Linked DNA regions of Homo sapiens: regions 1, 2, 3 and 4 are each linked to region 5. The links come from fine-mapping of genetic effects on gene expression. A gene starts in region 5. Each other region holds a variant in brackets. All regions are shown on one strand. Distances are from middle to middle.

Region 1 (5,102 bases), 190 kb before region 5:
TGAGAGTTTTATGGAGAGGAGTACAAAACTTCACTGAAAAATCTAAAAGAAGACAACATATGCCCTGTACATCAATGAACCTAAATACTGGAAGAAAAAACAAAACAAAACAAAAAAAAACCCTCAAGTCTCCCTTTCTGTCCCTACATAATCCACACTCTAGTCTGTCTCCCAAATAAGACTACAATAAGTAAAGGAGTATTCTCCTGTATTTGGTGGTAATAATGGCAAGAGAACACAGATGGAAAAAAACATGAGGATAAACCAGGAAAACATGTCTTACCCAAGCAGTTTAAACTTTAAATGCAGCTTTCTAGTCTATGATGCCCAGCCAGCAGCACCTTTCCTTCCACTTTTTTTTTTCCCCGCATGTTCGAATGTCTCTCAGATGATATGTGTTTCCAAGCAGTTCTCTATTCGCTTTTTAAATCAGTAAGGTCTTTTAAAATGCAAAGTCAACTTTGGAAACAATGTGGGCCAGCCAGAAACTAATTTAACATTGTAACTTTATAGCTCACCATACACTTATTTAAGGTCTGCACAACCTTGCAATTTAGTACTCTGCCACTCTGCCTCTTGAAAATAAGCAAAATGTTGCTGGCTCAACACAATAGAAACTATCGTTCTAAATCCCAAGAGCAAACAAGTAGAACCAGGTCAGTCCTCTGAGACCTCCAGTACCAAAAAGATACAGTATCAGTAAAATCCTAATAAAAATTATAAATTGAAACTAAAGGCAACCCAAGTTTTTTTTTTTCAATTAGTATACTAGAAGTAAAGAAGGGATTGGAAAAATTAAAATGAAAAATTAGACTTGACTGTGAGTTCCTATTACTGTGAGTAGTTACTGTGAATACCCTGACTGGGAGTTCCTATGACTTCCCACTACTGTGGACTTCCAAATTAAAAATATCAGGCAGATTTTGACACATGAAGTAAGATGTGGTTGGGCAATTAACAAGAGTAAATTTTTAAGTTAAGCAGATAGTTTCTGAAAGTTTAACTTGAAAAGGTAACTAAAAACACACATAGGATTTTAGGTTCAAACACTACTACAAACTGGGAAGTAAAAGCAATTGAAATTTCAAGTCTAATAGAACAATTTCTGTGTCTCAATCTTTTATTATATAGGATCCAAGGCAGCTGAAATTTAAATTTCAGTCTGAAAACAGTGGCAAAAGACCTTTTCTTCTCACTCAGAAAAAAATAAGCTTGGAACAGTAGACCTTCTGTGAGAAGGCAGCAGGCCATTCTGTATTTCAGCGGGGTCGTCATATAAAGAAAAGGCTATGACTGAACACATGAACTATGCAACTTCTTGGCAGCAATACATGTACTTACCAATACCAATCACTGTTGTGATCCCGCCTAGCCAACTACCAGCAAGTCTGCACTAAGTCTACAATTCAAAGGTGAGAACTTTCCTGAATAAAACCACTGTGGAGGCCAAGAGTGTCTAGACCTGAGGAGGAGTAGACCTGCCAACATCAGAGCACTCCCCAGTTCAAAGAATGAACTTCTTTTTCCCTTTGAGAGATAGAGATAATGCTGTGAATGGGGCCAAAGGTCAGGAGGCTTACCAAAACTGGGTATAACCTACATACATTAACGAGTCAAGCAACAAATCTGAACTCAGAATACGTGGTCTAATACCTTAGTATAACAGTGCAAATTACTTTATTGGCAGTATATTGAAAGTAAATTTTTTAAAAAAAGAAAACATTAATAGGCCACTACTCACTCGATCACTCTTCCCAGACACAAGTATCTCCAACCAGACAGCAATAACTTCCACATTCGTACCTCCAGGCTTCGTATTTCCAACAGCCACCTCCACAGTATTACCTTTGTGTCCTTGGGTACCTTAAACTCAACCCATCTACAACTAAACTGATTATATTTTCTTCTCCTACCAAACCTCCTCTTCCACACTGAATTCCCTTGTCACCTAAAAGCACTGTTTGGACAAACCAATAACTTCCTAATTAATCTACTTAACAAGGTCTCCTCCCCTCCACCTCCCAAAATCATTAATCCTTCACATTCCATTAATTTTCTTCTACAATGAAAGCTGTTACCACAAAATAATCACTACTATTTTTCAGCTACATTTACAGTGTGTCAAGAGCTGTGCTTTACATATTATCCCGTTCAATCAAATCCTCACAACAGTTCTTTCAGGTAGGCATTATTATGCTTGTTTTACAAATGAATTAAACC[A/G]AAGTTTAAGGCTCATCCAAGGTCAGAGAGAGAGCTGGTTAGTGGGAGACTAAGGATTTAATATCAGGCACTCTTTTAACCAATATAAAAGTAACCTGCCTTGGCTGGTCATGGTGGCTCATGCCTGTAACCCCAGCACTTTGGGAGGCCAAGGTGGGCGGATCCAAGGTGGCCAGGAGTTTGAGACCAGCTGGCCAACATGGCAAAACCCCGTCTCTATCAAAAATACAAAAATTAACCAGGCATGGTGGCACACGCCCGTAATCTCACCTACAAGGGAGGCTGAGGCATGAGAATCACTTGAACCCGGGAGGCGAAGGTTGCAGTGAGTCGAGATCATGCCACTGCGCTCCAGTATGGGCAATAGAGCAAGGCGCTGTCTCAAAACAAACAAAAACCCCTGCCTCATTAGAGAATGCTTTCTAAAAATTGAGGGAAGGGAGAGAAACAGGTATAATTTGAACACTCTAATAACTAAGTTACAAATTCATTATTTAACATATAGTTTCAGTCAAGAAGTACAAATAATTCTATACTATTAGAGATACTCTCAAAATACTGATCTGATCTAAAAGGTCTAACCAACCTATTACTTAAATGATAAAGTAAGTGAAACTATTTCACAATCGGCCTTCAACCTATCTTTCAACTAGATTTTCCAATATTCCCAGCCACTTTCCCCTCCTATCCCCATACTTTTTGGTACAAACCACTATACACAGCTAGTAAGGCCCATTCAATCTCCTATCACCAGGTCTATGGCAAATTTTTTCAATGCAGCCTTCTCTGACATCTTCAGGCAAAATTAACTCCTCCTTCCTCTTGCTTTTATGGCAGGTTTTTCATTTCTAACTCATAGCATACATATCTATATACATATACACCCATACACGTATATCACTAAATTTATTACAGACACCAAAAAAGGGGGTAAATCTTGTCTTTCTACGTATTTAGACATACATACAAAAAACTCGTGGCCGGGCATGGTGGCTCATACCTGGAATCTCAGCACTTTCGGAGGCCAAAGCGGGCAGAACACTTGAGGTCAGGAGTTCGAGACCAGCTTGGCCAACATGGTGAAACCTCATTTTTACTAAAAATACAAAAAATTAGCCAGGCGTGGTGGTGGGCGCCTATAATCCCAGCTACTCAGGAGGCTGAGGCAAGAGAATTGCTTGAACCCAGGAGGTGGAGGCTGCAGTGAGCTAAGATCCTACCAATGCACTCCAGCCTGGGCAACAGAGCAAGACCCCCCCCCCCAAAAAAAAACACCTCATATATTTGTGTGCATTTACAGGGAAAGGCATTTATATAGCAATTCTTACTATTTCTGATTCTATTGTTTCCTTTCTTATCCACTCCTTACCTATATCCCATACACTCTACAGCATTAAAAAAACAAAATTACATTGAGGCCAAAGTAAAATACTTCCAAATGTAAAAATAAATGATATGGCAATTAGCACTACTGTTAGGATGGACCATGCAGCACCCAATACATATTAATTGTACAATCTGTTTCATTTGTATACAGAGAAGCAGGGCTTTTCACTGTGCTTTACCCAGCAGAAATGGTTGTCTTTGCCTAGGATGCTAAAGGATCAAGGAATTGGAATTCAAAAAGTTATCACTAGGTCAGGAGCAGTAGCTCATGACTATAATAATCCCAGCACCTCGGGGAGCCAAGGCAGGAGGACTCTTGAGCCCAAAAGTTCAAGACCAGCCTAGGCAACATGGAGGGACCTCATCTCTACAGAAAAATTTAAAAATTAGCCAGACATAGTGCCATGCACCTGTAGTCCCAGCTATTTGGGAGGCTGAGGTGGGAGGGTCACTTAAGTCCAGGAGATAGAGGCTGCAGTGAGCCGTGATCATGCCACTGCTCTCCAGCCTGGGTGACAGAGTGAGATTCTGTCTCAAAAAAGTATCTCTAAAGGACCAAATGTGAACAACAACTAAACAGATTTTTATTTTATTTTATTTCTACTTTTATTTTTATTTTAATAAACAGAGTCTCACTATGTTGCCCAGATGGGTCTCAAACTCCTGGCCTGAGGTGATCCTCCCACATCAGCCTCCCAAAGTGGTGGGATTACTGGCATGAGCCACTGCACTCACCCAAAAGCTAGATTTTTAAAACTTTAAAAACCCCTCCCCACAGTAACAGAAATGCTTTTAACAGACACAACTGATTTTTTAAAAAAATAAATCACAGCATAACCATCTAGAAACGCAACTATGCCCACCATTTTCAGACTGTTTTTTCCTATACAACACCTTACATTCCTAAAATAGCTTAATTATGGAATTCCTGGTTTAAATGGACAACAATTTCTTTATTATTGTTTAACTTTAAAAAAGAAAACCAACCTAGAAACAACAGAATAAATTTAGCCTTATATGGATGAAACCCTGTTATAACTGACCTAAAAATACAGGTTACTTAGCTTCTAAAAATGATTTTTTTTCTTCCCATCCTTCTAATATATTCTAAAAAGTATAGAGGAGCAGATATTTAGGAAAACATGTATATTCCTTTAGTGCAATCCTAAAGCAGCAATGAAAAAACAACTTGAGTAATGGGAGGGGTAGTGGAGAGGAAGAGGGGCTGAACAGACGTCAGCAGGGTGCAAGGGGAGGATGGGTTGCCTAGGAAACCAAACAGTAAAGAATGAGCGGAAAAATCATTAGCTGAAAAACCTCTGAAATGCTTTTACAAGAGCTCAATCCTTCATCCCAAAAGATGTACAGCAAAGAGACCAATTGTCACAAATGACAAAGGGAACTTACAGCGTGACAGCCAAGCAAGTGCCTTTTCCGAACTGTGTGGCACACAGACATCAGGAGGAGCAACCATGAGTGAGTTACACATCCGTGAC
Region 2 (5,102 bases), 130 kb after region 5:
TCCCACAGACTATGAGCTCCACCAAGGGTAGGGAGCATTTGTATTGCTTATTACCTAATTGTTACCTAGCCCTGAGTAGATGCTCCGTAATGATTTTTTTTTTAATTGACAGCAACTGCCTCATTCCCTGCAGTTAATTCCTATGACCCTATGGACTCTTCCTATTCTTTTTTTTTTTTTTTTGAGGTGGGTTCTCACTCTGTCACCCAGGCTGTAGTGCAGTGGTGCAATCTTGGCTCCTGCCTCAGCCTCCCGAGTAGCTGGGATTACAGGCACCCGCCACTACGCCCAGCTAATTTTTGCATTTTTAGTACAGACGGGGTTTCACCATGTTGGTGAATATCCACCCAGGGTCCTGTGGTTCTTAGAGCAGTTATAGTGACTCCAGGCCTCCTTAGTCCCAGAACCTTGTGAGTCAGCTTCATCTGCTTTTCCTAAGTGATTTCCAGACCTGAGCTTACCCAAGGCTGAGAAAAGGGGGCAAGGAAGGACAAGAGGAGCCTAAAGTCAGCAGCGGGGAGGGGCTTATGGCCAACAGAGCACACAGCTCCTGTCTCAGAGTCCAGCGACTGGGTCCTGTCCAGGTTCCTCCCACCTTGAACAAATCAGCCAGCCCTGTGCAAATGGACTCCTTTTCCCAGCTAGTTCCTCTGCCTTCCACTTGCCTCTCCTGGCTGTAGCTGGCCATTGGTACCTGGGAGCAAGCAGGCTCCCTGGCGCCACTTACCCCACCTCTGGCTGGTTTTTCAAGGAGTCCCAATGTGGCTGGGTCGCCCCAAACCTTATCTAGTATACCTTTCCCCCTTTGGATGGGATGCCCCATTTCTCCGCAGCCTGTAACCCGGCTCAACTAATATTTGCCAGTGCCTCCTACTCCAATAGAATGATGGATGTCGATGGTCCAAGAGTTTATGACAGTAATTTTCAAACTTTTTTTTTTCTAAAGCAGCAGAATCAGCCGCGCGCAGTGGCTCACGCCTGTAATCCCAGCACTTTGGGAGGCCGAGGCGGACGGATCACAAAGTCAGGAGATCGAGACCATCCTGGCTAACACGGTGAAACCCCGTCTCCACTAAAAAATACAAAAAATTAGCCGGGCGTGATGGCAGGCGCCTGTAGTCCCAGCTACTTGGGAGGCTGAAGCAGGAGAATGGCGTGAACCCAGGAGGCGGAGCTTGCAGTGAGCCCAGATCGCACCACTGCACTCCAGCCTGGGCGACAGAGTGAGACTCCGTCTCAAAAATAAATAAATAAATAAAAATAAAAAATAAAGCAGCGGAATCCTTTTCCCCTTTTCCAATTGTATGCAGGATCCTAGTGTACAAGAGAGAAAAAGACAGAGGTGTTCTGTTTGAAGGGGAGGTTTGATTTCCTCTGCTTCCCTCCCCTGCCTGTGCTGGCTCTTGAGGCATCTCTTCAGCACCTTTAGCCTCTGCGGAACCCACCTGGAAAACCCATGCTCCACAAGGTATCACAGCAGCTATTCGCCACCTGTTTTTCATGGTCAGACAGTAAGTCCTTCCTGTTATTTAACCTTGTCCCACCCACAGGTTACAGTGGCTTGAATCTTCTCTTGCTCTGTCCTCAGTTGAAAATGAAGCTGACCATGGCACCTGTGTCACGCTCAGCACATGGGCTTGTTTATTCAAGCCATTGGGAGATGCTAGAACTCACTCCTTGTCCTACCTGTCAAAACCTCCACAGGCCTTGGAAAAGAGTAAGTGGTAGGGCCAGGCACAGTGACTCACGCCTGTAGTCCCAGCACTTTGGGAGGCTGAGGTGGGCGGATCACTTGAGGTCAAGGAGTTTGAGACCATTCTGGCCACATAGTGAAACCCCGTCTCTACCAAAATATATATATAAATTAGCCGGGTGTGGTTGTGCGTGCCCGTAGTCCTAGCTACTTGGCAGGCCGACGCTGGAGAATTGCTTGAACCCAGGAGGTGGAGGTTGCAGGGAGCCGAGATCGCGCCACCGCACTCCAGCCTGGGCAACAGAGTGAGACCCTGTCTCAAGAAAAAAAAAGAAAAAAGGCTAAGTGATGAGATTCACTGACCTTGAAAGACCAAGCAAGAGGACACCCAGCCTACAGTGCGCAGCAGAGAGGGTGGCCCCAGAGTGACAGCAGCTCAGGAAATATGGTGACAGAGGATAAGTTGGCATGGGAGGAGGCAGAGCTTGGCCAGTTTGCTTTGAGGAAAAGGACCTAGGAGTCCCAGCTCCCCCACGTCAGAATCCCCCCAGTTCTGCTGATTTCCTCATTCTCCCCAGCACAGCCCAGCTCTC[C/T]TATTTTGGGAAACACCTGGCTATAGTACCCAAGGCTGCGGTACTAAGGATGTACTCAGGTGCTGTCGCATCCTGCCAGGAGAATCTCAGGGCAGCTCCAGAACTCAGAAAATGTTCTGGTTCCTTCCCAGAACTCTCCCCTGCCCAGGCACCTGAAAGAGAAGGCTCCCAGGAGAGACAGAAGTTAGTCATTAGGTATGGGGGCTTCCCTGGGAGGTGTTTCTCTTCCTGGATTTTCTTTTTTTGAGATGGAGTCTTCCCCCTGTCGCCCAGGCTGGAGTGCAGTGGCATGATGTTGGCTCACTGCAACCTCCGCCTCCTGGGTTCAAGCGATTCTCCTGCCTCAGCCTCCTGATTAGCTGGGATTACAGGCACGTGCCACCATGCCCAGCTAATTTTTGTATTTTTGGTAGAGACAGGGTTTCACCACGTTGGCCATGCTGGTCTTGAACTCCTGACCTCAGGTGATCTGCCTGCCTCGGCCTCCCAAAGTGCTGGGATTACAGGTGTGAGCCACTGTGCCTGGCCTCTTTCTGGATTTTCAACTGGAATTTTCTGCCCAGCCCTTTATTGGAGAGGCCCAAGAAGGGTTCCTGACCTTCCACCTTAGTGCTTTTAGAGAGAGCACAGTCTTTCTCAATGCCCCCTCACTCCCAGCTAAACTCTTCTTTACTGGTCTGGGGAGTAGAGGAGAGGTTTGGAATGACAGGATGAGTGCTCCAGCAAGGGCTTGTGTGCAACCCGAGGCCCAATCCAGGAAAGCCAGTTGTGGTGGCAGGGACTGGGTAGGCAACTTATGGAGCCGGGGTCTTGCTGGCTTTGTCTAATTTGGAGGGTGGTTCTTTGAGCTCGATGGTTTTCAACCTTTTTATTGCAAAAACTCTTTTTTAAAAAAATATAACCCAGAAGTCCACTGTATAAAAACAATAAAAGCAAAGTTATCCTGGGATGCTCAGGAGATTTGGGGCGGGGGGATGGGGATGGCTTGGTGACAGGAAGGGCGGGGATCTAGAGTGTTGACTGCTCCCAGCCTTCTCCCTCACCGCTGAGGTCCCTTTACAGAACCCTGCCAAGCAGGGAAGGAGAGGAAAAAAAGAAAAACCACCTGGTCCTTCTTGGTTTCTGAGACTCTGAGCCCTCATAGTTTTCTACTGCTCTGATCATTTTCTCTTGCTCCCTTGTCTATACCTAATATTCTTTTCCTAATCATTTTTCTCCTTTCCCTCTCTGTTCCCTCAAAGAACAAGTCTATTTTTTAACTTGGCCTCTCTGTGGATGAGTCCTGTCTGCCTGTCCAGTTCTAACTTCTCTCCAGATTCCCACTGTCAGCTGGTGGCTGAATACTTCCACGAGGATGACCCACTAGCATCTCAAAGGCATGTCCCAGATCGTAGAACACAGGAAGGAAAGGCCCCGGTATTTGAACCCCTACTCTGTTCTTCTTAACAGAATCACTTTGGACAAGACACTTAGTCTCTCTGGGTCTCAGTTTCCTTATCCCTGAAATAGATATGCTAATACCTATCCCTTATAATTAAAGCAGAATAATAAACATAAACTTTGGTAAACTATATTGTACTTCCTGGCTGGGTGCGGTGGCTCATACCTGTAATCCTAAGACTTTGGGAGGCTGAGGCGGGCGGTCACTTGAGGTCAGGAGTTTGAAACCAGCCTGGCCAACATGGTGAAACCCCCATCTCTACTAAAAATACCAAAAAAAATAGCTGGGGGTGGTGGCGGGCACCTGTAATCCCAGCTACTTGAGAAGCTGAGGCAGGAGAATCACTTGAACCAGGAGGTGGAGGTTGCAGTGAGCTGAGATCGCGCCACTGCACTCCAGCCTGGGTGACACAGCGAAACTCCATCTCAAAACAAACAAACAAACAAAAAAACTATATTGTGCTTCAAAAGCTTTCCCCTGTTGCTTTGTTCCCTGACAAAAAGTCAGAGAGGTTAAATAAAGCCATCATCTCCTCTTCCCTCTCTCTCACCCCATACATCTCATCAAGCGCAGAGAATAACTGGTTAAACGATGGATGAATGCTGATTCCTCCTTTCTACCCTCACTGCCACCATCCTCTTTCAGGCCCCCGTATCCTGAGATCCTTGTTTGCATGTCTAGAGTCATGATGCTAGACTCTCCAAGTTATTCTGCACACTGAAGCTGTTTTCCTGGAACTAAAATTAGACGATATCATCCCTCTTCTCGTATACCTACAAGGATTCCTTACTGTTTGCAGAATAAAACCCAAAGTCCTGTCAGCCCCATGGCATCCCCACCATGCCTTCTGGCTTCTCACCACAGTTCACGCTTTTCTTCATGAAGTGCTCCTCCTCACCACTCTCCATATTGCAAAGCTTTCTCCTCTTTCAAATACCTCCGTTTTGGCTGGGCGCGGTGGCTCACGCCTATAATCCCAGCACTTTGGGAGGCTGAGGCGGGTGGATCCCTGGGCGAGACTCCCTCTCAAAAACAAAAACAAAACAAAACCCTCCTTTTCCAGCAAGCTGTGCCTAATACCATGTCAGAAGTAGCTGCTTCTCTCTGTGCACTTCCAAGATCCACTGTTTCACTATTTGTACCAAATGCATTTGGTTTTGTGTAATATTTAGGTATTATGTCTATGTCTCACATCAGATTGTGAGCTGTCCAAGGGCTAAGACTATGGCATTATTTTTCTCTTCTACACACAGTAGGCAAGTACTCAACAAATATCTGTTAAACTGAATTGACTATCACCAAATTTCACTCCTAACAGTTACCTTATTATCCTATGTTTGGTCAGTGATGCTCATAATATCAAAATGAGATAACA
Region 3 (5,102 bases), 73 kb before region 5:
TAGCCAGGCATGGTGGTGGGCACCTGTAGTCCCAGCTACTCAGGAGGCTGAGGCAGAAGAATGGCTTAAACCTGGGAGGCAGAGGTTGCAGTGAGCTGAGATCATACCACTGCACTCCAGCCTGGGTGACCGAGCAAGACTCTGTCACAAATAATAATAATAATAATAAAAAGACTGTGTTCTGCATCACCACCTCAGCTGTGTGGCTTTTGCCTTTTTCCTCGTCTTTCTCAGATCCACCTGGTCACATCCCAATTTCCCCAGGGCATCCGAAGCAGGTCTGAGCAGCCAAGGATAACTACTTAGTCTCCTGCTAGAAAATATCTCAGGTAGGTTGTATAAGGGAAGCTAAGTAAGCTTTCAGTCAACGACTTTCTGTTCAGTCTGCCCACATTGTTCTTTTTAATGTAGCCATTCAAGCTGTGATGCAAAACATAAAAATTGCCCTTATTACTTTGCATATGTTCTAGGATATGGTTGAAACATTTTTAGATTATTATTAATTATCCTTTGAATAATCCAAAACATCTTCAGGCTGGAGTGCAGTGGCGCTATCATAGGTCACTGCAGCCTCAACTTCTTGGGCTCAAGTGATCCTCCTGCCTCAGCCTCCCGAGTAGCTGGGACTACATGTATACACCACCATGCCTGGCTAATCTTTTTTTTTTTTTTTTTTTGAGACGGAGTCTCACTGTGTCTCCCAGGTTGGAGTGCGGTGGCGCGATCTCGGCTCACTGCAAGCTCCGCCTCCCGGGTTCACGCCATTCTCCTGCCTCAGCCTCCCAAGTAGCTGGGACTACAGGCGCCCGCCACTACGCCCGGCTAATTTTTTGTATTTTTAGTAGAAACGGGGTTTCACCGTGTTAGCCAAGATGGTCTCGATCTCCTGACCTCGTGATCCGCCCGTCTCGGCCTCCCAAAGTGCTGGGATTACAGGCGTGAGCCACCGCGCCCGGCCCTGGCTAATCTTTTAATGTTTTTATACAGACAGGGTCTTGCCATGTTGCCCAGGCCAGTCTCAAATTATTGGTCTCAAACAATCCTTCTGCCTCAGCTTCCCAAAGTGTTGCGATTACAGGTGTGAGCCACTGAACTGGCCAAGTATAATTTTCAAAAGGTCTTCTTCAACCTTAGATGTGACTGTATTATCATTTGGGATCAATGTCTTCCTTGGGCAAATATACCTTTGGTTTTATAAGAAAAATCAATGGCAAAATACATTTAGTAAAGAAAAAAAATCATCTAGGACAACTTTTTTTTTTTTTTTTTGAGATGGAGTCACGCTCTGTCACCCAGACTGGAGTATAGCGGTGCAGTCTCGGCTCACTGCAACCTGCACATCCTTGGTTCAAGCAATTCTCCTGCCTCAGCCTCCCAAGTCCCAAGTAGCTGGGATTATAGGCACCCGTCACCACGCCCAGTTAATTTTTGTATTTTTAGTGGAGACAGAGTTTCACCATATTGGCCAGGCTGGTCTGGAACTCCCGACCTCAGGTGATCCACCCACCTCGGCCTCCTAAAGTGCTGGGATTACAGGCGTGAGCCACCACACCTGGCCAGGACAACATTTTTAATAAAAGTGTGTTCCTTAAGGTGGAGGATCCCTTGTTACCCTGTAATCAACTCTCTAATATTTATACTACTAATTTTTGTCTTATAATTTACTTATTTCTCCTAAGTAAAAAATATGATATTCAACAAATATTGATTAAGATATTGACATATTTGGATCCTTTTCTTTCCCTTGAATATCAAAGTGTACCTAGATTCTAGAAAGTCACCATGTTTCACCGAAAATGAAGGCATACTTCAAAGGTCTACCTAGGGTGAAAGTTTTCCTTATTTCCCTAGCTCTGCACTTACAAAACTGCATTTTTCTTCTTTCCCTTCATCTTCACATCTATTCTCACGGAAGAGCCGTCTCTTCTGCAGCACCTGCCTTGGGAACTGCCTCTCAGTTTTCAAAGCTCACCTTCACACAGCCTGGTGTGTTTCAGGTGACAGGACAGATGCTCTGCTTTTAAAGCAGCTTCCTTGCATTAAGGGTCGGTTTTGAGCCAGGCACAGTGGCTCACTCCTGTAATCCCAACACTCTGTGAGACTGAGGTGAGACGACGGCATGAGCCCAGGAGTTCAAGACCAGCCTGGGCAACATAGCAAAACCCCCATCTCTACAAAAAAAATTAAAAATTAGCCAGGAGGGGCTGGGCACGGTGGTTCACGCCTGTAATCTCAGCACTTGGGAGGCTGAGGCGGGCGGATCACGAGGTCAGGAGATCAAGATCATCCTGGCTAACACGGTGAAACCCCATCTCTACTAAAACTACAAAAAAATTAGCCGGGCGTGGCAGCCAGCGCCTGTATCCCAGCTACGCGGGAGGCTGAGGCAGGAGAATGGCCTGAAGCCGGGAGGTGGAGCTTGCAGTGAGCCAAGATCGTGCCACTGCACTCCAGCCTGGGGGACAGAGCGAGACTCCGTCTCAAAAAAAAAAAAAAAATTAGCCAGGAGGCTGGGCGCGGTGGCTCACACCTGTAATCCCAGCACTTTGGGAGGCCACGGC[G/A]GGCGGATCACGAGGTCAGGAGATGAGACCATCCTGGCTAACACGGTGAAACCCCGTCTCTACTAAAAATACAAAAAATTAGCCAGGAGTGGTGGTGGGCGCCTGTAATCCCAGCTACTCGGGAGGCTGAGGCAGGAGAATTGCTTGAACCCGGGAGGTGGAGTTTGCAGTGAGCCGAGATCACGCCACCCCACTGCACTCCAGCCTGGGCAACAGAGCAAGACTCCATCTCAAAAATAAGTAAAAAAAAAAAAATAGCCAGGCATGGTGGTGCATGCCTGTGGCCCAGCTACTTGGGAGGCTAAGGTGGGAGAATCACTTGAGTCCAGGAGGTCAAAGCTGCTGTGAGCCGTGATCACACCACTGCACTCCAGCCTGGGCAGCAAAGTGAAACCCTGTCTCAAAAAAAAAAAAAAAAAAAGTGGGTTTTGCTTAAGTTTTCTACCAGCCTTTTCAGCTGTTGGCTAAGAACAATTTATACTATTGGGATTGGTTTCTGTAGGTAGCTGACTTACCTTTGTTTGCTTCATTTCTGCCACAATTTTTCTCAAACTAGAAAATCCAGTCTTCTACTTCTTGAGGCCAGATTCCTATCCCTTGGCTGCAGAGACACCTTCTGGTTGAAGTCCTAAACTACATGATGCGTAACGAATACTCCCTTTTCTTTTCTGCTAAGGAAGGCTTTCTAGTCCTTTCTATTTAAACTGTAGGCCATTGAAAACCACAAACCCGTATAGGAGCCAGAAAGCTGGAATCCGAATGGAAGCTGGCTTCAGGAAGCTAGATTTCTTTATGGCCAAATACAAAGTACAGTGGGGGCCAGGCGCGGTGGCTCACGCCTGTAAACCCAGCACTTTGGGAGGCCGAGGAGAGCTGATCACAAGGTCCGGAGTTTGAGATCAGCCTGACCAACATGGTGAAACCCGTCTGTACTAAAAATATAAAAATTAGCCAGGCGGGGTGGCACACGCCTGTAATCCCAGCTACTCAGGAGGCTGAGGCAGGAGAATAGCTTGAACCCGGGAGGCAGAGGCTGCAGTGAGCCGAGATGGCACCACTGCACTCCAGCCTGGGCGAAAGAGTGAGACTCCGCCTCAAAAAAAAAAAAAAAAGAAAGTACAGTGGGGTAGGCTTACAATTGTGTTTTAGGCTTAAGTAGCAGTCCATGCTGTGTGTGTTTGTGTGTGTATGTTTTGAGACGGAATCTGGCTCTATCACCCAGGCTGGAGTGCAGTGACATGATCTCAGTTCACTGCACCCTCCACCTCCGGAGTTCAAGTGATTCTCCTGCCTCAGCCTCCCAAGTAGCTGGGATCACAGGTGTGCACCACCACACCCAGCTAATTTTTGTATTTTTAGTAGAGACAGGTGTGGTTTTCACCATGTTAGTCAGGCTGGTCTCAAACTCCTGACCTCAAATGATCCACCCGCCTTGGCCTCCCAAAGTGCTAGGATTACAGGCTAGAGCCACCACGCCTGCCTTTTTTTTTTTTTTTTTTTGAGACGGAGTCTTGCTCTGTTGCCCAGGCTGGAGTGCAGTGGTGCAATCATAACTCCCTGAAGCCTCCAACTCCTAGGCTCAAGCTATCTTCCCACCTCAGCCTCCTGAGTAGCTGGGACTGTAGGCATATACCACCACACTTGTCTTAAAAAAAAATTTGTCTTTTGGTTGGGTGTGGTGGCTCACATTTGTAATCCCAGCACTTCGGGAGGCTGAGGCAGGTGGATCACCTGAGGTCAGGAATTCAAGACCAGCCTGGCCAACATGGTGAAACCCCATCTCTAGTAAAAATACAAAAAATTAGCCAGGCGTGGTGATGCGTGCCTGTAATTCCAGCTACTGGAGAGGCTGAGGCAGGAGAATTGCTTGAACCGGGGAGGTGGAGGTTGCAGTGAGCCGAGATTGCACCATTGCACTCCAGCCTGGGCAACAAGAGGGAAACTCTGCTTAAGAAAAAAAACTAAGGATGAAGTTATTTCCATTTATTTTTATTTAAAAAATAATTTCATTCACTTGGCACATTTAAGAGCCAGGTCTGTTATCTTCTCTGGAAAATCACTCCTACCTAATGAGGTCGTTAGGAGAATTAACTTATAAATATGTAAAGGGACCTAGATTAGAGCCTCGTACATCCTCCCTCTAAATTCCAAAAGTAGGTAAACAATAACATACTGGTTTCCAAATCACTTTCAAAAGATTAGGAATGATTGAGAATAGAATTAGGGCTGTGAAAATGGATTAACTTCAGAGTTAAAAGAAAGTTGTGGTTTAAATGTTTCGATTTGGTTTACTAAACATGCATAGTTCAATCTGTGGAATGTGGATATATTTGTGTTTGTGATGCAACTCTGCATGTCCAATGAAAACATTCTTACTCTCAAATTTCATAACGTAGTTGTTATCCCCACTTTATAGATGGTCAACTTACTTTATCTATCTGATGATTGGCTCCTACAGCCAGTAAGTGGTGAAGCTGAGATGTAATTCCAAGGCTGCTGATCTCCAAAGCCAGTTGTCTTTCCAAATATTAGAATATACTA
Region 4 (5,102 bases), 30 kb after region 5:
GATGAGGATGGAGGCCAAACCAAAGGGGGGCGCCAATCCCCTGTCCAACACCTTCTCACCAAAAGCTCCCGTTTGGCTGGAGGCAGACCCTGTGGCTCTGACCAGACTTCTCTGGCAGCAATCCTCCACCATTTGTATCTTAAGAAGGCCCTCACCCTCTTTGAGTGGAGTCAGAGGATGCCTCAGATTCCAGATGTAAGCATCAGAACTGCTTTCTGTCAAGAGCTCCCTAATTTTGGGAAAGAAGAGCCTGTCCCACACTGTCAGGCCCTGAGGTCAGCAGATCTGCTCCTCCTTCCCGTGCGGTACGTCTAGGTGCTGATGAGGGCAGTCCAGGGCGCTCTTGTTCTGGGACAGGCTCCAGTCCCCTTGCTCCAGCAGGTCTGGGGCAAGGAGGTCAGAGGTGGTGGGAGGGCCCCTGCTCTCTGTTTCCACTTCGTCTGGATCCTTGCTGCTGCAAAGTGGCACTGATTCTAGCTCTGTCCCTTCCTCCTTGGCTTTCCGGCTCCGATGGGGCCAGTGGCAGGGTCCACTCCTACAAACTTGATTGGAAGCCACATTCCTCTGGCTCAAATATACTTCCAGCATGTAGTAAACAGTCCAGAAGACGGTGAAACAGCCTACCAGCACCAGGGTCTGGGGCCGAGGCAAGCACCTACGTGAGGCACTGTTTCCCGAAGCCTACAGCCTTTCTCAGCCCAGGACAATGAGCTCAGAAAGTCTTTTTCCTTCTAGGGACTGCCTTTTTCACCCAAACTGTTCCCTCTGCCCCCTCCCCCGACAAGGCCTGTCCTGTAAGAGTTAGGCTAGCAGGGTAGGAGCAATGCTATGAAACCACTGCTGGGACCCAGGTCTTCCCAGTCCTTCACCCCGCAGGTCACCCTGAGAAACACACTAAGAACTCCATCCCCCAGACAGGACAGTCCCATCTACCCGCAGCTTGAGTCTTGGCCCTAGTACCTTGAGGGTGTTGGGGGTGATGGTGTAACCATCTTCCTCAGGAATTTTCAGCCCCGGTGGGCAGGGCAGGGCGAAGTCATCGTGCAGGTATTTTCCACTCATGGCACTCTCTAACAGCCTGTGGAGAAGAAAAGAGGTGAGGATGCCCCACTGACTATGGTTCCTATACCATCTGCCCTCACCCATTTTCCTGCCTTACAGGTGAAGACAGGGAAGCCCCACAGCAAAAAGGAGAGGCCCAGACTGTGAGTTCCCAGCCCGGGGCTCCATCTACCGGCTTGACGCTGGAACTGGGAAGCACAGCTGGGGTTCAGAGGGCGATGGGCTCCCTAGGCGGCCCTTCCCCTGTGACTGGCCTTCCCTCTGACACATGCGGCTTTACCCACCTTTGTCTGTCCCTGATGTCTACTGCACTCCACACAGAGCCATATAGGGTCAGCTGCCATTGCCGGAGGATGCCGACCTGGAATGACTCATCCCCTAGGGCAGCAAGGGGCAGCTCGTGAGCCACGCCCCTCTGTCAGCCATGCCAGACAGCAGAGGCCCTGCCCGCCCTGCCACCCAAAGGGGCTCAGGCCACATGGTCTGCTCCAGGAGCTGCCTCACTGTGTCCCACTGACCCCAGGTTCTGCAGAAGGGCCTCACTGGGTGCCCTTAGGGATGGAAAGGGTTGAAAGGCTGTACTCCAAAGCAGAGTCTTGCTTTTCTCTCCCGTATTTTGGGGGTTCAGCTGGGATTAGAAAAAAATGTCTTTCCACCAAATTAAAGAAAGCTTTGAAAACCACTGGCCTAGAGAATACCTAACTGACTGGAGGATGGGAGGGTGGAGCTCAATTTCCAGTCTATAGGCTGATACTAAAGATATTCACAATTCATGGATATTGTGGCCTTCACTGATATGGTGACCTTCCACAAGTCACCTCAAACCTCTGGGCCAGTTTAAAAAAAATGGTGAAATGAGTCCTGCCCTTACCTGCCTAC[C/T]GGGGCTGGCCGAAGGATGGTTATACGTAAAAGGACTTGAAATGTGGTTTCGACAAGGACTTTTTGTTGCTATCCTGAGGAAAGATGGATGGGTCACTCCTCCAGGGAATATGAGAGGTAGTATAAATGAACAGTTGCAGAGAGCAATGCCCATTTCACGGATGGGCACACTCTTGGCATCAACTCTCTTGGTCCAATGGCAACCCTATATATTGCACACGGGACACTTTCTGTGGGGACTCTGAGATGCAGAGGGACCAGATAACAAGCAGGAAAGGTAGGGCCTGGTGTGAGGGCACGAGACTCACCGACATCCCTGATGACAAGCCTGTAGGTCCCTCGGGCTCTCTCCCCCCAGCATCGCACAGTGGAGAAGGTCCAGTCATTGAAGCCGTTGGGATCCCTGAGGAAAGAACACAGCAGAAACAGGTGGAAGGCGTGGGCCAGAGAGCTGACCTTCCCCCAGCAACACTTTCTTACTGTAGTAGCCGTGGAAACAACCTGGGAGGGTGCCACGAGGGCTTCTCAGGTGCCCCTTTCCCCTGGGGTCTCATGGAAGGAGGAAATTGTGTTAACGTGGTGTGGTGGAAAAAGCAAGCATGGAGCGCGCACAGGCTTGGAGTCCCACGGATCTAGGTTTATTCTTGTTCTCTTGGGCACTTACTAGCTCCATGACTTGTTTTCTTTTTCTTTCTTTTTTTTTTTGGAGACAGGGTCTCACTCTGTTATCCAAGCTGGAGTGCAGTGGCATGATCACAGCTCACTGCAGCCTTGACTTCCTGGGTTCAAGTGATCCTCCCACCTCAGTCTCCTGAGTAGCTGGGACTACAGGCATGTACCACCATGCTCAGCTAATCTTTAAATTTTTTGTAGAGACAGGGTCTCACTTTGTTGCCCAGGCTGGTCTTGAACTCCTGAGTTCAAGTGATTCTCCTGCCTTGACCTCCCAAAGTGCTGGGATTACAGGTGTGAGCCACCACACCCAGCCAGTTTCCTCATTTGTAAAAGGAGGTTACAAAGTCTAATCTAGGGGGTTCTTAGAAGGATTAGAGAACATGTATGTGAGGTGCAGGGCCTAGCGCTTGAAGAAGGTATGTGACGAAAGGCTTCCAGCCGCCAGGGATAGCCAGTGCCACAGTAGTTTAGGACAGTGCCAGGATCCACTTCTTCCATTTCTTTTCCCTGGAAAGGCCCTTGCTGAAAAGGTTGCTCAGGCCTCGGGCGGGTGTACATACGAGTCCATGCTGCGGGGGGCGCCGATGAGGGACATCATGCCACTGGGGCAGAACAGCTTCAGCTCCAAGCTGCCGCGCCGTGGGTGAGTGATGGAGACTGTCACTGCCACATGCTCCAGGGTCTTCAGCCCTGACATCTCCAGGTCCATCCTGCTGACTGTAGAAAGTCAGGCTGGGCAGCTGGGAAACCAGCCCACAAACACGCCTTCACTTCACCCCCACGTACACAAAGACACACGCTCACTGAAGCCACATACAAACATCTACGGCAACCCTAACTGGGACCTCGCCTATACTAGTAAATGGAATGGAGCTGCTGCTCTCAAGTTTACAACGTAGCTTCGAGTGCAGTTGGGAAGACGACACATACCCAAGACACAATATAAGAATCCAGCAGAGCAACTTCAATCATTCATTCATCCAAAACATTATTTACTGGGTACCTCCTCCATTTCAGGCACTGTACTAGATGCTGGGAATATAAAGATAAGATGGGCGTGGTCCCTGCCTCCTACCTGCAAGTGGAAAATGATATGGTATGGGAAATATACATAATTGATAAGGGAAGAGAAATAAGTCAGATGGGTTTAGGCACACAGCAGTGAGACACACTGAAGGAAATGAATACAGATCGGTAGACAGGGTTGGTAGAGGGCATTCTAGGCAGTGGAAAAGGCATGAACAAAGACGAAATGCACACATCTCACTGAAGATGATGCACAGTTAATTTTTAAAAAATGCTGGTGGATAAATTTCAAGCAAATTATGTGAGTGAAAAAAGCAATCTCAAAAGAAGCATATAGCCAGGTGTGGTGGTGTGCACCTGTGGTCCCACTACCGGGGAGGGTGAGGTGGGAGGATCGCTTGAGCCTGGGAGGTGGAGATTGCAGTGAGCCATGCTCATGCTACCACACTCCAGCCTGGGCAACAGAACAAGACCCTGTCTCAAAGAAAAAAAAAAAAAGAAAAAGGATGCGTAGCACACAATTCCATTTAGGTGATGTTAATTGAAGTACCTGCAGTGATACATAACAGATAAATGGGTGCCAGGGGCCAGGGACAGGGGAGGGGATGGGTGTGGCCAGAAAGGGGTAACACAAAGGAGTCTTGTGATAATGGAATTGTTCTGGATCTTGGTTGTGGTGGTAGTTATGCAAGGCTACATGTGATACAATTGCATACAGCTACACACGCGCATACACAAATATTGACAGCATGTGTATCTGGTGAACTCCAAATAAGCTCTATGGATTGTACCAATGTCAATTTCTTGGTTTTGATATTATACTTTAATTGTGTGAAACATTAAGATTGGGAGAAGGGTGCACGGGACTTCTCTTGTACATTTCTTTGAAACCTCCTGTAAATCTACAATTATTAAAACAAAAACAAAAACAAAAAACTACTGAAGAGGAAGACTCAACTGGGGACTATTAAGAAATTAGGCTGTAATGAGAACGATTCTTTTTTTTTTTTTTTTTGAGACAGAGTCTCTCTCTGTTGCCAGGCTGGAGTGCAGTGGCATGATCTTGGCTCACTGCAACCTCTGCCTTCTGGGTTCAAGCGATTCTCCTGCCTCAGCTTCCCAAGTAGCTAGGACTACAGGTGCACGCCACCATGGCCACCTAATTTTTGTATTTTTAGTAGAGATGGGGTTTCACCATGTTGGCCAGGATGGTCTCAATCTCTTGACCTTATGATCCACCCGCCTCAGCCTCCGAAAGTGCTGGGATTACAGGCGTGAGCCACTGCACCCGGCCGAATACAATTCTTTTTAAAGCACCCTTTCTTCCATTAATTTATTCCAGGCCAGGCATGGTGGCTCACTCCAGGCATGGTGGAGGATAACTTCAGCCTGGGAGACATCATCTTTACAAAAAAATAAAAAATTAGCTGGATATAGTGGTAAGCACCTGTGGTCCCAGC
Region 5 (5,089 bases):
AAGTGTGAAGTAGGACTCTGGATGTGCGTTTAAAACAGGCGTAGGGTCACATCTTGCCCCAAAGTTATGAGGCCAACTTAGAGTAGTGGTGCTTGCCTGTAATCCAGCTACTCGAGAGGCTGTGGCAGATCGCTTGAAGCCAGGAGTTCAAGACCAGCCTGGGCAATGTATCACGAGTGTTTCTTAATGTTTCAGATTATTTACTGGCAAGATGAGCAGGATTACCATGAAAGAAAAGTCCAGATGGACTGAGGAAATCCTACACTGATTCTCCAAACTTGGCAGCTGACTGCATGGAGGGCTCATGATGAAGAAACCTCTTTTGCCATCCTGAGGATTCTCTGATTCATATTCGCCTAGATGTGCTGGAAACAGTACTGGACCAAGGTGCAAACTTGAGTCTAGTGAGGTACTAATGGGCTGAAGTTTTTCTGAGCGTCACTTTCCTCATCTGTATAATGAGGGGTTGGCCAAGGAAACCCATAAGGTTATCTTCCAGCTGACTTTCTAATTGGTGAACCCTTTGGAAAAGGGGTGCAGCTTGCTTCTGGTCTTCATCCTCAAGTATGCTGTGCTTGGACAGGGGCCAAAACTAATTCCTCCACTCACCATTTGCCCAGCATAACTACAACAGTACCTGGCACATCGTGGATGCTTATTAAATATTTATTGCAGGAATGAGTAAATATAACTAACTGATCATAAGGTAAAATAGTCTTCATTGGAACAAGGCTCCAGATAGTTGGGCAGGGCTGGGAGCTGAGACTGCTGCAATCCTGCCAGCTGAGAGAACTCTGACAAGGCACTGATCTGGGTGGCTTTATTAGGATGTCTGACAGCTTCAGAGGTGGCCACATTTCTTTTCCTTTAAACATGTCTAATTTGGCCGGGCGCAGTGGCTCACGCCTGTAATCCCAACACTTTGGGAAGCCTAGGTGGGTGGATCACTCGAGGTCAGGAGTTCGAGATCAGCCTGACCAATATGGTGAAACCCCGCTTTACTAAAAATACAAGAAATTAGCAGGGTGTGGTGGCGGGTGCCTGTAGTCCCAGCTACTTGGGAGGCTGAGGCAGGAGCATCGCCTGAACTCAGGAGGCGGAGATTGCAGTGAGCTGAGATCACACCACTGTACTCCAGCATGGGTGACAGTGAGACTCCATCTCAAAAAAAAAAAAAAAAAAAAGTCTAATTTGTCTTATAAATGCAATATATGTGGCCAGGCATGGTGGCTCATGCCTATAATCCCAGCACTTTGGGAGACTGAGGTGGGTGGATCACCTGAGGTCAGGAGTTCGAGACCAGCCTGACCAATATGGTGAAACCCCGTCTCTACCAAAAATACAAAAATTAGCTGGGCGTGGTGGCACATGGCCTGTAATCCCAGCTACTCGGGAGACTGAGGCAGGAGAATTGCTTGAACCCAGGAGGCAGAGGTTGCAATGAGCTGAGATTGTGCCACTGCACTCCAACCTGGGCAACAGAGCGAGACCCTGTCTCCACCCCCCGGCAGATAAAAAAGCAATATATAAATATATATACATTGTAGAACATTTGTAAATCTTTTTAAATATAAAAAATAAAATTTAAGAACCACTCACAATCCATTATTTTTTATTTTTTGGTACTACTCTATATTTTTAGAATTAAAGGAAAATGATATACAATATGTGTTATTTTTAAAATTGTAATTCAAAGATAACTACTGCTAAATTTTATTTTTAAAATTTGCCCTGCTTTCTGGAGACATTGCTAAATGTTTAGTACAATTTTTTTCTATTTTTCTATGCATGTCTATATGCATTTGGAATATATACGGTTTTATTTACTTATTTATTTTTGAGACAGAGTCTTGCTCTGTTGCAGCCCAGGCTGGAGTGCAGGAGCATGATCTCAGCTCACTGCAACCTCCGCCTGGTAGAGTTAAGCGATTCTCCTGCTTCAGCCTCCCCAGTAGCTGGGATTACAGGCACGCGTCACCACGCCCCACTAATTTTGTATTTTTATAGTAGAGATGGGGTTCACCATGTTGGCCATGGCTGGTCTCGAACTCCTGACCTCAAGTGATCTACCTGTCTTGGCCTCCCAAAGTGTTGGGATTACACGTGTGAGCCACGGCACCTGGCTCTATATACTGTTTATTTAGTGTCATATCCTGAATTCTCTGCTTACGTGTCCTGTGAAGTCTTAAGCATCATTTTTGATGCCTTCATGATAGTGCATTTAACCAATCCCTCATTATGGATATCCAAGTCATTTCCTTTTTGCTTTATATTATAAATATCACAGTGATAAGCGTAGCTGCCCAGGTATTTTTATCTGTGCTTCCTATTTCCTTAGGATAGAGTCCAGAAGTGGAATTACTGGATCAAAGGGTATAAAGCTCTCTAAGTTTCTTGAAACAGTGCCAAAATATTTTGTAGAAAAGTTTTCACCAATTTACACTGAAGGTCAGTATCTTTCAATGAGTTTTGTAACTGTCTCTGAGAGAAGAGGGGAAACAGCCCGGCAAGCTTGGAAAGCTCGGAAGGCCGTCCCTGCAGTTGTGTGGCCCCTCTAGAGGGAGGTGGGAAAGGCATGGGGATTCCTCCTGCAGTGCTGCCTCCGTTTCCCCTCCGCCGGTAGGGCCACCGTCCTGTTTCCTAATCCTTCGAGTTTTTCATTTTTTAAGATCCCCGGAGAAAAAGTGGCCCAGGGTTGGACGATGTTAGTTGTAAAGGTGGTGGTGGGGGTGGGGGAATCCTTATGTTTGAGCAAATGTAAGAGTTGTTCAGCAAGAACCCAACACTTGGAGATTGTTAACAGAAACATCTGCCTATTCCAACGTGAGTTTCAGAGATGGTGAAAATCACGGGAGAGAGTTGGGTAGGAGTTGGAGAAGGCATTGCAAGCTTTCCCCTTCAGCTAGACAGCTGCAGCCCCTTTAAGGGCAAATGCGGGACCTGGTCCTTTAAATCTGTGTCAGTTTCCCCTGACGTCAGCGGGCGGGCCAGCAGCCCTGCTGTTTATCGCCCAGCGGCGCAGCTCACTTTTCAGTGTTCGTGCGTCGGGACGGCGCGTCCGCCCGCCCTTAAAGGGCCCGCACCTCGGAAAACTCGCAGCCCAGCACGGCGTCGGGTAGCTACCACCTATCACGCCCCTCACTCTGCGACTCGCCTTCCTCCGCGGCCAGCCCCCGCCGCCGGCTCTTCCTCCCTCCCCTTTCCCGGCGTCTCCAGGCTCCCGGCAACCAGCCGCCCTCCTTCTCACGGCCCTGGCCCGGGGCTCCAGGGTCTCAGGTCGTACTCAGCCCCTCGCGAGCTGGGACCCCTTCCCGTAGCCAGCATCCCCTCCCTCCCCGCCCCCTCCCGGCCGCCCCCTCCCCTGCGGGGACCCTGGGAGCCTCTTCGGGGCTCTTGGGAGGGGACATTTCCTAATCTCAGGCCGGGGTTAAAGTTCTGGTCCTGGTGAGATGCTGGAAGCTGCGGCCGCAGCCGCAACCCGTCCCGGAGGTGTCCTGTCTCCTGTCGCCGCCGCCGCCGCCACCACCGCTGCCACTGCCGCCCTGCCGGGGCCATGTTCGCTCTGGGCTTGCCCTTCTTGGTGCTCTTGGTGGCCTCGGTCGAGAGCCATCTGGGGGTTCTGGGGCCCAAGAACGTCTCGCAGAAAGACGCCGAGTTTGAGCGCACCTACGTGGACGAGGTCAACAGCGAGCTGGTCAACATCTACACCTTCAACCATACTGTGACCCGCAACAGGGTGAGGGCTGGGGGCTTAGGGGCCAGAGGCGAGTGGGGAAGCCGACGAGGGCTAGGCGATTCTGCCGCCCCGCTACCCTTTTGGGAGGCCCCAGGAACGAGCTGTCCTGCTAGGTTCCCAGTTCCCAGAACCACACTGGAGCCTCTTGACCAGTCCTCCTTCCTTTGCCACCAATGTTTCTCTGAAGCTCCAGCTGGGCAGTTTTTGAAGTTGGCTCATTCCCATCTTCTCTTCCGCCCCCATTCTTCCATCAGTTGTGGTCTGAGCACACATGGCTTGCTCTCTACCCTAAACCCCAGAATCTGACAGCTCTGTGGGGTCTCGGTGGGAGAGGAAACAGGCTTATTACTGGGCTTGCCCAGAAAACCTCAGGGGAATGAGACTGGCCCAGAACTGAAAAGCTCTGTGCAGGCAAGTTACATCTCAGACTCCCCAGGGAGATGAATGCAGGGCTTCCCAGCCCTCTTCCTGCCTGGGAGAGCCAGCTGGCCTTGTAAATTGAGGGTGACAGAGGTTTTATAAGGCCAACTGCAAGTTGGGTGGGAAGAGAAGGGGAATTTGTCCACTGTGAAAAATCCACTTCACCCTGACTTCTCTTTGGTTTCTTCACCAGCTGTGAGTCCCTGAGTTGAAATAGACACAGCTAGTGTGGGAAGTCTAGACCCCAGGCAGAGCTGAGATTGGGAGAATTCTTGCAACCTGGCTGTGTGGTCTCGTGCCCGGGTCTCTTGCTCTCTCTCCATGACTGCCGTTTACTGAGAAGCAATGGAGTTGAGAATGGGGAATCTGATTTTTTTTCAGAACGGGGAGTGGTTTGGTTTCTGTGGCAGGCCAGGATCTGCCCCCAGTGCCTGGTTCTCTGAAGTTTGATCTCTTTCTGCTTAGAGTCCTTTCTTCCTTTTTTCCCATATCTAAAGGCACTGGAGAGCTGTGGTTTTTACTCTTTTGGGAAATGCTGCCCTAGGGCTTGGGTTTCAGCAGCCCAATAACAAGCATTCCAAGATCGATTTGGTTTTATTTTTCCTTTAAGCTCCCATTGTTTATATATGTTCCTTCATAGCTCCAAGGGTGAAGATCACTTTATCTTTTTTTTTTTTTTTTTTTTTTTGAGACCAGTCTCACTCTGTTGCCCAGGCTGAAGTGCAGTTTTGTGATCTCAGCTCACTGCAACCTCCGCCTTCCCGGTTCAAGCGATTCTCCTGCCTCAGCCTCCCAAGTAGTTGAGATTACAGGCGCCTGCCACCATACCCAGCTAATTTTTGTATTTTTAGTAGAGATGGGGCTTCACCATGTTGGCCAGGCTGGTCTCAAACTCCTGACCTCAGATGATCCTCCTGCCTTGGCCTCCCAAAG

Which allele goes with the higher level. Alleles are on the strand shown, and positions count from the first base shown. SD is a standard deviation of normalised expression in the study named. Not every link is listed here.
With allele T in place of C in region 2, the expression in testis of the gene that starts at base 3,033 in region 5 is higher (small effect, 0.22 SD a copy in GTEx).
In carriers of allele T in region 4, the expression in activated naive CD4 T cells of the gene that starts at base 3,033 in region 5 tends to be higher than with C alone (large effect, 0.84 SD a copy in Schmiedel 2018).

The links. PIP is the estimated chance that this variant, and not a neighbour inherited with it, causes the effect. A credible set is the group of variants that fine-mapping cannot tell apart.
Region 1: its variant is the best candidate, but not a certain one, in a credible set for the expression of SIDT2 in whole blood (TOPMed, PIP 0.56).
Region 2: its variant is the best candidate, but not a certain one, in a credible set for the expression of SIDT2 in testis (GTEx, PIP 0.61).
Region 3: its variant is the best candidate, but not a certain one, in a credible set for the expression of SIDT2 in whole blood (TOPMed, PIP 0.56).
Region 4: its variant is the best candidate, but not a certain one, in a credible set for the expression of SIDT2 in activated naive CD4 T cells (Schmiedel 2018, PIP 0.52).

What each region holds. Positions count from the first base shown.
Region 1 is chr11:116,988,844-116,993,945 of GRCh38, forward strand. The region is part of intron 1 of SIK3 (SIK family kinase 3); the gene reads right to left. Among named protein-coding and RNA genes, the nearest start is that of SIK3, 110 kb to the right of the region's middle. The variant A/G (reference allele first, on the strand shown) is at 2,221.
Region 2 is chr11:117,304,798-117,309,899 of GRCh38, forward strand. All of the region lies in intron 1 of BACE1 (beta-secretase 1), which reads right to left. Among named protein-coding and RNA genes, the nearest start is that of BACE1, 8.9 kb to the right of the region's middle. The variant C/T (reference allele first, on the strand shown) is at 2,287.
Region 3 is chr11:117,102,990-117,108,091 of GRCh38, forward strand. No RefSeq gene overlaps it. Among named protein-coding and RNA genes, the nearest start is that of SIK3, 7.1 kb to the left of the region's middle. The variant G/A (reference allele first, on the strand shown) is at 2,562.
Region 4 is chr11:117,205,721-117,210,822 of GRCh38, forward strand. TAGLN (transgelin) reads left to right here. Exons shown (of 5, transcript NM_003186.5): 5 at 1-1,744. It overlaps PCSK7 (proprotein convertase subtilisin/kexin type 7), which reads right to left. Exons shown (of 17, transcript NM_004716.4): 13 at 3,177-3,333; 14 at 2,250-2,344; 15 at 1,347-1,440; 16 at 961-1,078; 17 at 1-636. The coding sequence ends at 277. Among named protein-coding and RNA genes, the nearest start is that of TAGLN, 8.9 kb to the left of the region's middle. RefSeq lists enhancers at 37-667, 668-1,298, 1,299-1,929, 2,770-3,270, 3,271-3,771. The variant C/T (reference allele first, on the strand shown) is at 1,942.
Region 5 is chr11:117,175,711-117,180,799 of GRCh38, forward strand. SIDT2 (SID1 transmembrane family member 2) reads left to right here and starts at 3,033. Exons shown (of 26, transcript NM_001040455.2): 1 at 3,033-3,736. The coding sequence starts at 3,554. It also overlaps a transcript of PAFAH1B2 not described here. RefSeq lists a silencer at 3,132-3,341 and an enhancer at 4,322-4,391.